3 separate regions of the Homo sapiens genome follow, and regions 1 and 2 are each linked to region 3. Evidence: fine-mapped expression QTL. A gene starts in region 3. Each other region holds a variant in brackets. All regions are shown on one strand. Distances are from middle to middle. Region 1 has its middle 9.3 kb from the start of LINC01686. Region 2 has its middle 13 kb from the start of LINC01688. Region 3 holds the start of RGS16 (regulator of G protein signaling 16).

The links. PIP is the estimated chance that this variant, and not a neighbour inherited with it, causes the effect. A credible set is the group of variants that fine-mapping cannot tell apart.
Region 1: its variant is the best candidate, but not a certain one, in a credible set for the expression of RGS16 in whole blood (TOPMed, PIP 0.54).
Region 2: its variant is the best candidate, but not a certain one, in a credible set for the expression of RGS16 in fibroblasts (GENCORD, PIP 0.52).

The regions. Positions count from the first base shown.
Region 1 is chr1:182,623,033-182,625,793 of GRCh38, reverse strand. No RefSeq gene overlaps it. Among named protein-coding and RNA genes, the nearest start is that of LINC01686, 9.3 kb to the right of the region's middle. The variant T/C (reference allele first, on the strand shown) is at 1,262.
Region 2 is chr1:182,698,663-182,701,423 of GRCh38, reverse strand. It overlaps a transcript of RGS8 not described here. Among named protein-coding and RNA genes, the nearest start is that of LINC01688, 13 kb to the left of the region's middle. The variant T/C (reference allele first, on the strand shown) is at 1,096.
Region 3 is chr1:182,602,952-182,605,712 of GRCh38, reverse strand. It overlaps RGS16 (regulator of G protein signaling 16), which reads left to right and starts at 1,324. Exons shown (of 5, transcript NM_002928.4): 1 at 1,324-1,497; 2 at 2,374-2,484. The coding sequence starts at 1,454. RefSeq lists enhancers at 1,010-1,089, 1,560-1,609, 1,700-1,759.

The sequences.
Region 1 (2,761 bases), 20 kb before region 3:
TTATGGCTTGTTTATTATCCATTTTTTAGTATTATACCTTATGCAGTATTTCCACCTTAAATAAATCTGGGGGGTAGAGCAGACACAATTATTCCCTACCATAGTGCAGATAAGGGGAATTGAGGCACACAAAGGTTATATGACTTGTCTAAGGTCAAACAACATGTTGCTGTCTAACCAGAACAACAGTCCTGGACTCTGGGCTCCAAGATCAGTATTTCAGCATTCAATGATGAGTGCTTATTGCTCTTCAAAAATATGGGCAGACAGACAAAAAAGAAGAGAGAGAATATACTATATGATTCCATTTATATACAACTCTAAAAAATGCAAACTAATCCATAGTGACAGAAAGCAGATCAGTGGTTGCCTGGGGCTAGGAGGGTGGGGAGGAGGGGAGCAGGGATTACACAGAGGCATGAGAGACTTTCGGGATAGTGGATGCGCCCACTCTTTTGATTGTGATGATTTCACTAGGTGTTTGCCTATGTCAAAACTTGTCAAGTTGTCCACTTCAACCATGTTAACTGTATGTTGATTATCCCTCACTAAAGCTATTTTAAAAAATATGGGCATAAATGACTCACTTGCTGGGCCTCCCTGCAATAATCATTTCCACCTTTTTAACATTTACAGAACATCCAAATACATGCTAGACATATAGAGGGGATATATGCAGAGGGGTACAATATCCCCCTGCCTTCATGGGGAAAATGCTTAAAAGAGAGGGTTTCAAACAGGGAAGTAAAGAGAACAAACATTTACCGAACATCAAACATATTATCTTTTTCAATCTTCACTAAACTCTACATGACGGATATTATCATCATATCCATTTTCCTGGTAAGGAAATTCTCAAGCCAGTAATAGCTGGGGTTTGAGGGAGCCAGTAACTAACACCTCTGCTTTTCACTCACTTCCTGAGTTCAGAACCCTTTGACACAGGAGTCAGATACCTGATGATGAAAACGTCAGCTTTATTACAGAAAAAGCTGGTTTTGAGGGCTTGGCTAAGAGCCACATGCTGCCAAATGGGTGTGCTAACAGATTCTCCTGAATTGAACTTAATTCTCAAACTGCAGACTTCCTCTCAGGCTCCACTAAACTTACCATAGAGTAGGAATTGTGGGTCTCCTGGGGACAGGCCACTCCTGAAGAGAAGTGAGTATGTCTGGTTCCTTTTTCTAAACTCACCAAGCAATGAGTTGCTACTTCTATGGGTAGGGCTTACTAGATTTAGGGGGAAAGTTGGGGAGAGAAG[T/C]CACAATTATAACTTTAGGGCAACCCCTTCTCATGAAAACATAGGAATCAAAAAGAAGTGTTGCCCTGAAAGGTTAAGTGGGATTCAGACCCAGATTCATGTTCTAAAGCAGTTATTACATCCATGGTTTTCATTCTAAAAATTTTGTGCAAACTAATTTATGTGCACCGAGTCCTAAATTAAATGGACTACAGGACATTGGATTTGAAGGAACACAGTGGTGAACTTTTTGCTAATGGGTGACTTTTTATATTCTTTCATTCATTTAAATAGTTTTTGTGCACCTATCCTGCAATAGGCCCTGAGCCCATCACTAGGCAGGCCAGGATAAATGTCCTGGCCTCTCCCTGTCCTCAGGGAGCTGGAGGACTCATCAGCCATCTCCAAGTTTCAGCTCTGGCCTCAGCTTTCTTTTTCAGCATATCTTCTGTTGACTGATTCCTTTTGTGCCTGCTATAACCAACAAACAGGATTTCTCCTTGAGGCCTCAACACATAACACCCCACTCCCTTTCTCATCCCTTGACTTTACTTATACTGTTTCCTATACCTGGAATCCAATTCAGTTAAGCAAACATTTTTGAGCATCTGCTGTGTTAGAGCTGTGAGAGGTAGAGCTACAAAAAGGAATAATATCTAGCTACAGTATCCTGTAAAGCTTGGCCTTTAAATGTTTAAATCCTATCCATCCTTCAAGGTCCACTTCCTCCATGAAGTCTTCTTAGGTTCCTCAATCAGCTGTAATCACTGGTATTTGCCTCAATTGTAGCTTTGAATGATGCTTTCACCTGCTGACCGAGGACTCCTCAGCCACCTGTACCTAAGGGAGCACAATGGGAATACCCCATAGTTCCATGACTCACCTCTATAGCCGCGTCCCTGAAAAATCGAGTCTTTCATTCCCATGCCTAAAATGTTGCTGCCCAGCATACAATGGGCAGGAAAGGACACAATCAATGGATGGCAAAGACCACCACTTACTTGGCCTCTCCCTATACCTTGCTTGGCTACCTCCCCCCGAGTTCACCTTTGCCTCAGTGGCAAAGGAAGACCCTCCTGTTGCCATGGCTACTGGTCCTCTCCCCATACCACTCTCCTGACCTCCCACCACATCCCCTGCACTTCAAGCTTGAATGCGCCTCAGCTGCAGATGCTCTCACCTCCCCCTCCAGTCCAGGACCTCAGCCTTTCCGGTCCTTCCTTTCATTCCTTCCCACAGTCCTAACCCTTCGCTAGGAAGCCAGAGCTGCTCTGTCCTGGGCCCAGAGCCAGGTTATATTTTGATGCAACCCTAGGGACTCTTTGGGGTTTTTTTCCAGGTTTAGACTTATCGAACATCTTGCCAGACCAGGGAATATAGTCAGATTTCTTTTTCTGCTGCCTATACAGGAAGGAGAAGTGGGGGAGTCCCCTTCTATTATTAGAGAAATTTTGGTTTGCAACAGAAATTCAACTCAAACCAGCATGAATAAAAGGGAGTTTTGGTGAGAATACTGGAACA
Region 2 (2,761 bases), 96 kb before region 3:
CTTGGAGTCATCTCTCAGTGACCTGTGCCTTTGACCTGGCCTGAAATTCCCATTGCTATTATCACTTAGGGGTTGGATAACAATATTGAAGAACTGAATTTCTTTAGGAAGTCATGGATACATGTAATATCTACTTAGGAAGTCACAGAAGTCATCTGATGCCTGCTGCCCAATGAGGTTTCCTAAAATGCTGATTTATGATGTCACAATTCTGCTCAAAGAAATGCAATGGTTGCCTGTTGTCCATCAACTCAAAACCCTGCTATTCCGCCCCATGCCATTAATTTCACTTATTTGCCTCATTTGGGATGGAGCTACAAGTAGGTGAAGAAGAGGACCTAAATGTCACATTTGACACATTTAAAACCTTCTCAAGAAAACATGACAAACATGTTGGGTAAATTTATATGATGAATTTGTTACAATGATTCATAATATATGTAACTCATTCATTACAATGGGGAAGCTTAGAATATTGGACTGGGATTTGGAAAACTTGCACTTGAATCCCAGTTCTGCTATGTTACACATGATGAATCCTTAAATAATTACTTTTTTCTGGTGTCTTAATTTCCTCCAATGTAAGTAGTCCACTGGACTATCATGATGATCAAATTAGATGATTGTAAGAGTCCTTTTGAATACAAAGCTTCAAATTCAAAGCACTTTGAAATATGAAATTTCATCAGTTAACAAAAATTAGACATTGCATTAATTTTTAAATGCTGTTCGGTTTTGTGTACTTAGTAGAATGAGAACTCTAACAAAAAGCATTCAGTCTTTCTAAGACACTCATGACTTCCAGCAATTCTGCTATCTCCTGAAAGCTATGGGAATTAGAAGACGGAAGATGCACCCTGTGTCTTCTGCCGCCAGAGGCAGCCCGAGGCTGAACCTGGGGTGTCTCTTGGAATACCACCCTGGACTGGCACCTCCTTTCTCTTGAAAGAGAAACCAGGAAGAACAATGCTCATGGTTACGTTTTCGGGGAGGAATGCTGAGGTGTCAGATTGGTGCGCTTATTGAAATATACAGGGACAAAGTAACACACTGTAGACTAGCGTGTGTGTCGCGGGGAATGTTTTGGGGGTCATG[T/C]TGGGGTGAGTGGTTACACCTGCTTCCATCCATTTTCTAGGGCAAATGGCTTCAGCTGCTGCCCGGCAACAGCATTTTCATAAAAGCCTTTGAGAGTAGCTTTGAAAATGTGTCAGCCAATAACCGTGCAGGACCCGGCCTAACCGCCGAGGGATCCCCCTCCCCCTCGCCGGAGCCGAGAATTGGGAAGGAGCAGATGGAGCTAGTTCTCCCCTCGGCGGGCTCTGGGGCGCATTGTTATGCACTCAAGACTCAGAACCTGAGACCCAGGCGGGCTCTTCACAGGCTTCGCCCTGGATCCCGAGCTCGGGAAGGAGTTCTGTGAGCCCCTCCAGTCTCCTGCAGGGTGTGAGGTGCCGGATCTTATCCAGGGCAGGCACTGTGTGAGGGTGCGCCCTCCTGTTAAATTTGCCGTGAGACCTCTCATATGTCATTAATCAAGCAGCTGAACCGAGCTGGCACTGCTGGAACACGGCATTCATTATAGTCCCCGAGGGATCCCTTTCTGCAGATCCCAGAACTTTTGGCTCCAGGAATAGAGATATCCATCCTGCCAGGAAGGCCCCAGGCCTGCAGCACATTGCAGGCCTCTCAGGGGATTTTGCCTGTATCCCTCCCCGGTAATCCCGTTGCAATCCCCAGGGCTCTGTGAATCCCCTCGGATTCTTAAGGTCCCTGCAGCAACGAAGCAGGCTTTGGGGAGCCACAGCACAGGGAGAAGAGCCTCCAACAGGGATCTGTGTGGAAGTTTCTAAGGACACAGCTATGTGGCACGTGTCTAGCCTGTTTTGTAAAATGTTTTTCACTTTCCCCGTGGCATGTGCCAATCCCTGGGGGCTAAGAGTTAGGAAAGGCCTTGGGCCTGCTTTCCTTGGCCCCCTGCCACTGAGGCCTGGGCCCAGGGAACTAATCTTTGCTCCTGGGAAGATGGGAAGAGCTGCCTGTCTGCAGAAACCACCTCCTCCTCTCTACACTCCATCCCCTTCCACATACACCATGAAGCTCCTTCTTTGATTTCTAAGTACCGAGCCAGGCGAGAAACACCCATTTAGCCATGGCCCCCTTTCAATGTGTTTAATCCCAAATGGAATAAATAAAATGAAGGAAGGCCTGCCTCTGTGGTGATGTGGAAACCCCTCTGGCCCAGGGATGGAGGCATGCAGGGTGATGAAAGTACAGCAGCTGGAGAGGCGGCTTTTAATAAGAAAAGATGAATCAAAATGCGCAAGTCATAACTCCCTCTACGCAGCCACCTATCTTCTGCCTTAACCTTTTCAGAATCATAAAAAACAGTCTAATTTCTTCCAAATAAATAGCTTTATGCCTCTCTGGGCTCTATTTTTCAGGCATACAATAAGTCTCTGGGCGCTTACACAGACGTGCTGAATATATGTAACTCCACATTCATTACGGAGACATGTGTGCACACAGTCACACACACATTGTTCTAATTCCCCTTGGTCTAATTTATGCAGTGAATTCTGTGCTTACGAAGTAAGAATTATTTCAAGGTTAAACAAAATGATGATAAGCACCTGACTCTAGCTGGGGCAACTCTGCCCTTTTCTTAGGACTGGTGGAGTTTAGGACACCAAAAAAGGAATATGCTCAATAGCAAATTCACTCTCATCGTGATAATATTGCTGACTTTTTTCACCCACAAAAA
Region 3 (2,761 bases):
TTGAAATGGCATGGCCTTCAACTCCTCCCTCTGCCCAGACCTGCTTTCTTTACTCCCTCTTAATTCTGATAACTCTCCCCAGTAAACCTCCTGCATGCAAGTGTCTACCCGAGTCTAGTTCCTAGGAACTCAAACTAAGAATTAATTTATTTAGTTCTCACAACCACCTTATGAAATAAGTTGTTCTCTTCGTAGAGACAAGGAAATGGAGGCATAGAAAGGTTAAGCAGTTTGCCTCGTCTCCCATCAGTAGCCAGTTAACAGTGAACGTGGCCTTCCTGCAGCTGGGTCTTCAGCAGGTCACCTGGCAGAGCCATGACTTGAAACCTGAAAATCTAACTCTAGACCCTGTACTTTTAACCTCACATACAGCCTCTTAATAGCAATCCCAATGCCTTTATGGGAAGATGAGGTGAGAGGAAGGGCATTTATTACCTTTATGTCAGAGATGGAGACAATAAGGTATTAACTGCTTAAACCCAGGATCGTCCACAGGTATAGCCGTGACCGGGTACTAACCTTTGTGTGTGTGTGTGGTGTGTGTGTGTGTGTGTGTGTGTGTGTGTGCAATGGAAAAAGAATGGCAAATTCACATTTGAATTTTGGAGCCAACACTTACTAGCTGCACATCTTTGAGCAAGTTATTTAATAACTAAGACTTTGAGCAAGTCTTACTTATGTGCCTAGCACATAGTAGGTGTTCAATAAACTACTCATCCCTATTCCACTTTTCTGTCATCTCCAACTGTGATCTTGGACAAGTTTATTTAGCTTTCTGATTCTCGATTTCTTCATCTATAAAATGGAGATGATGATGAAGAGCTTACTTAGCCCCGTGTCCATCATGGTAAGAGCCTCGTAAAGGGTACTTATCAGTATAATCAGATGCTGTTTTGCCCAGGTTTGCACCCTGTGCGCCTGTCCTCAGGACCCAGCAGGCTCAGACTTGCCTGCGATCAAAGAAAGCCCTGTGTGCCTCCCAGACCCACCACCCCCGTGCAAACTCTCTCAACACGACACCGCTGCGTGACTTTCCTGCTGTTACTAGAGGTCGGCAGGTACTTTTCCCTAGGAAACTGGGTGTGCACGTCTCATCCCCGTGCCAATTCTCTTGCCGCTTTTCCTTCCACACGCGGCGTCCTCTGGGCGGAGGGTGCAGCTCCGCGTGCTCCAGCTGCCGCGAAAGTTGCACCCGGCCCAGTCTGGCTGCGGGCCCCGCCTCCGCCTTCTCAGCGCCCAGCCCCACCCTCCGATTGGTCAGCAGTGCCCAGCCCCGCCCCGCTCCTCCGAGGGGATTTAAAGCAGCGGCCGCTCAGTCTGGGCGCTTGCAGGCTGCTAAACCCAACCGCAGTTGACTAGCACCTGCTACCGCGCCTTTGCTTCCTGGCGCACGCGGAGCCTCCTGGAGCCTGCCACCATCCTGCCTACTACGTGCTGCCCTGCGCCCGCAGCCATGTGCCGCACCCTGGCCGCCTTCCCCACCACCTGCCTGGAGAGGTAAGGGGAGGTTGTCCAACTGCTTGGGGGAAGTCCCACCAACTCTTAGGGAGTGGAGCGGCAGGCCTGGGGACCTGGGTGGGCGCGGGGATGGGGCGCTAGAGGCTTGAGTAGAGAGGTAGAAGCGCACTTGATGCCACGTGCTCAGATTCCAGGAGCAGGGAGAAAGCAAGGGGAAGGGAAGCAAGGGCCCGCGGCTTGCTGCCATCCCCATCCTCTGACAAACTGCAGTCGTGCTCAGGTGACCTGCTGAAGACCCGGCTGCGGGAAGGCCACGTTGACATTTCCAGGCAGCACTGAGCCTGCCCATTTCTTAAGCATTTGTTTTTCATTCCTCAGACCAGAGCTAGGGGCATTGCCTCCTCTGCCCCTGGAAGACAGGGAGATTTTTTTTTTTTTGGTGGGGTGTGTGGGGGTGGGGGCTCCCACTGTTGAGGGTGTGTCCATATTCCAGAGAGCTACTCAACAGCTTCCAATCCTTACTGGCTGGGAAGGAAAAAGTAAAGATGAAGGCAGGAATCAGTTTCCCACACAGTTCAGAAATACTTCTGAAAAGAATGCTGAGTTCTTTTCTGAATCAACAGGCACGAAGAGAGATCAGTGTGACTTTAGGGAAAAGCCCATATATGCAGCGTGTGTATTACCCAGAAAGTGTAAGACCTACCACAGCATAGCTCAAACATTGCTTTTGTTGCTTTGGGGTTGATGATGCTGATAAGAGAAGCACTCTTGGCCTGGGGACAGCCAAGAGTTTCCAGGAACTCTTGAGGCTAAAGTTTGGGTGGCACCACCCAGAGCTCTTCTGGGACCCATAAACCTCTCCACACTGGCTGAGCAAATGAGAGAATGCTTTCATGTTCCTGATTTGTTTTTCAGAGCCAAAGAGTTCAAGACACGTCTGGGGATCTTTCTTCACAAATCAGAGCTGGGCTGCGATACTGGGAGTACTGGCAAGTTCGAGTGGGGCAGTAAACACAGCAAAGAGAAGTAAGTGTTGCTGACCAGCTCAGGGCTCCGAGAGGGAAGGGAGTGGGAAGGGAGTCATGAGGAGGGAAATACAGGGAGAAGCCAGGACACGCTAAGTGGACCTTGGCAACACCTCCCTAGAGATTTTAGTGGGACTTGTTGCTGGTCTGTTATGACTACTTGGCTCATGGGTGAGTGGGTAGGTGGCTCCAGGGCTCCAAGTCCATCCACGGATGAGGGCACACAGGGCATGAATGCCTAGTTCCCAGACTCTCCCACCTCGGGATTCATTGCACGT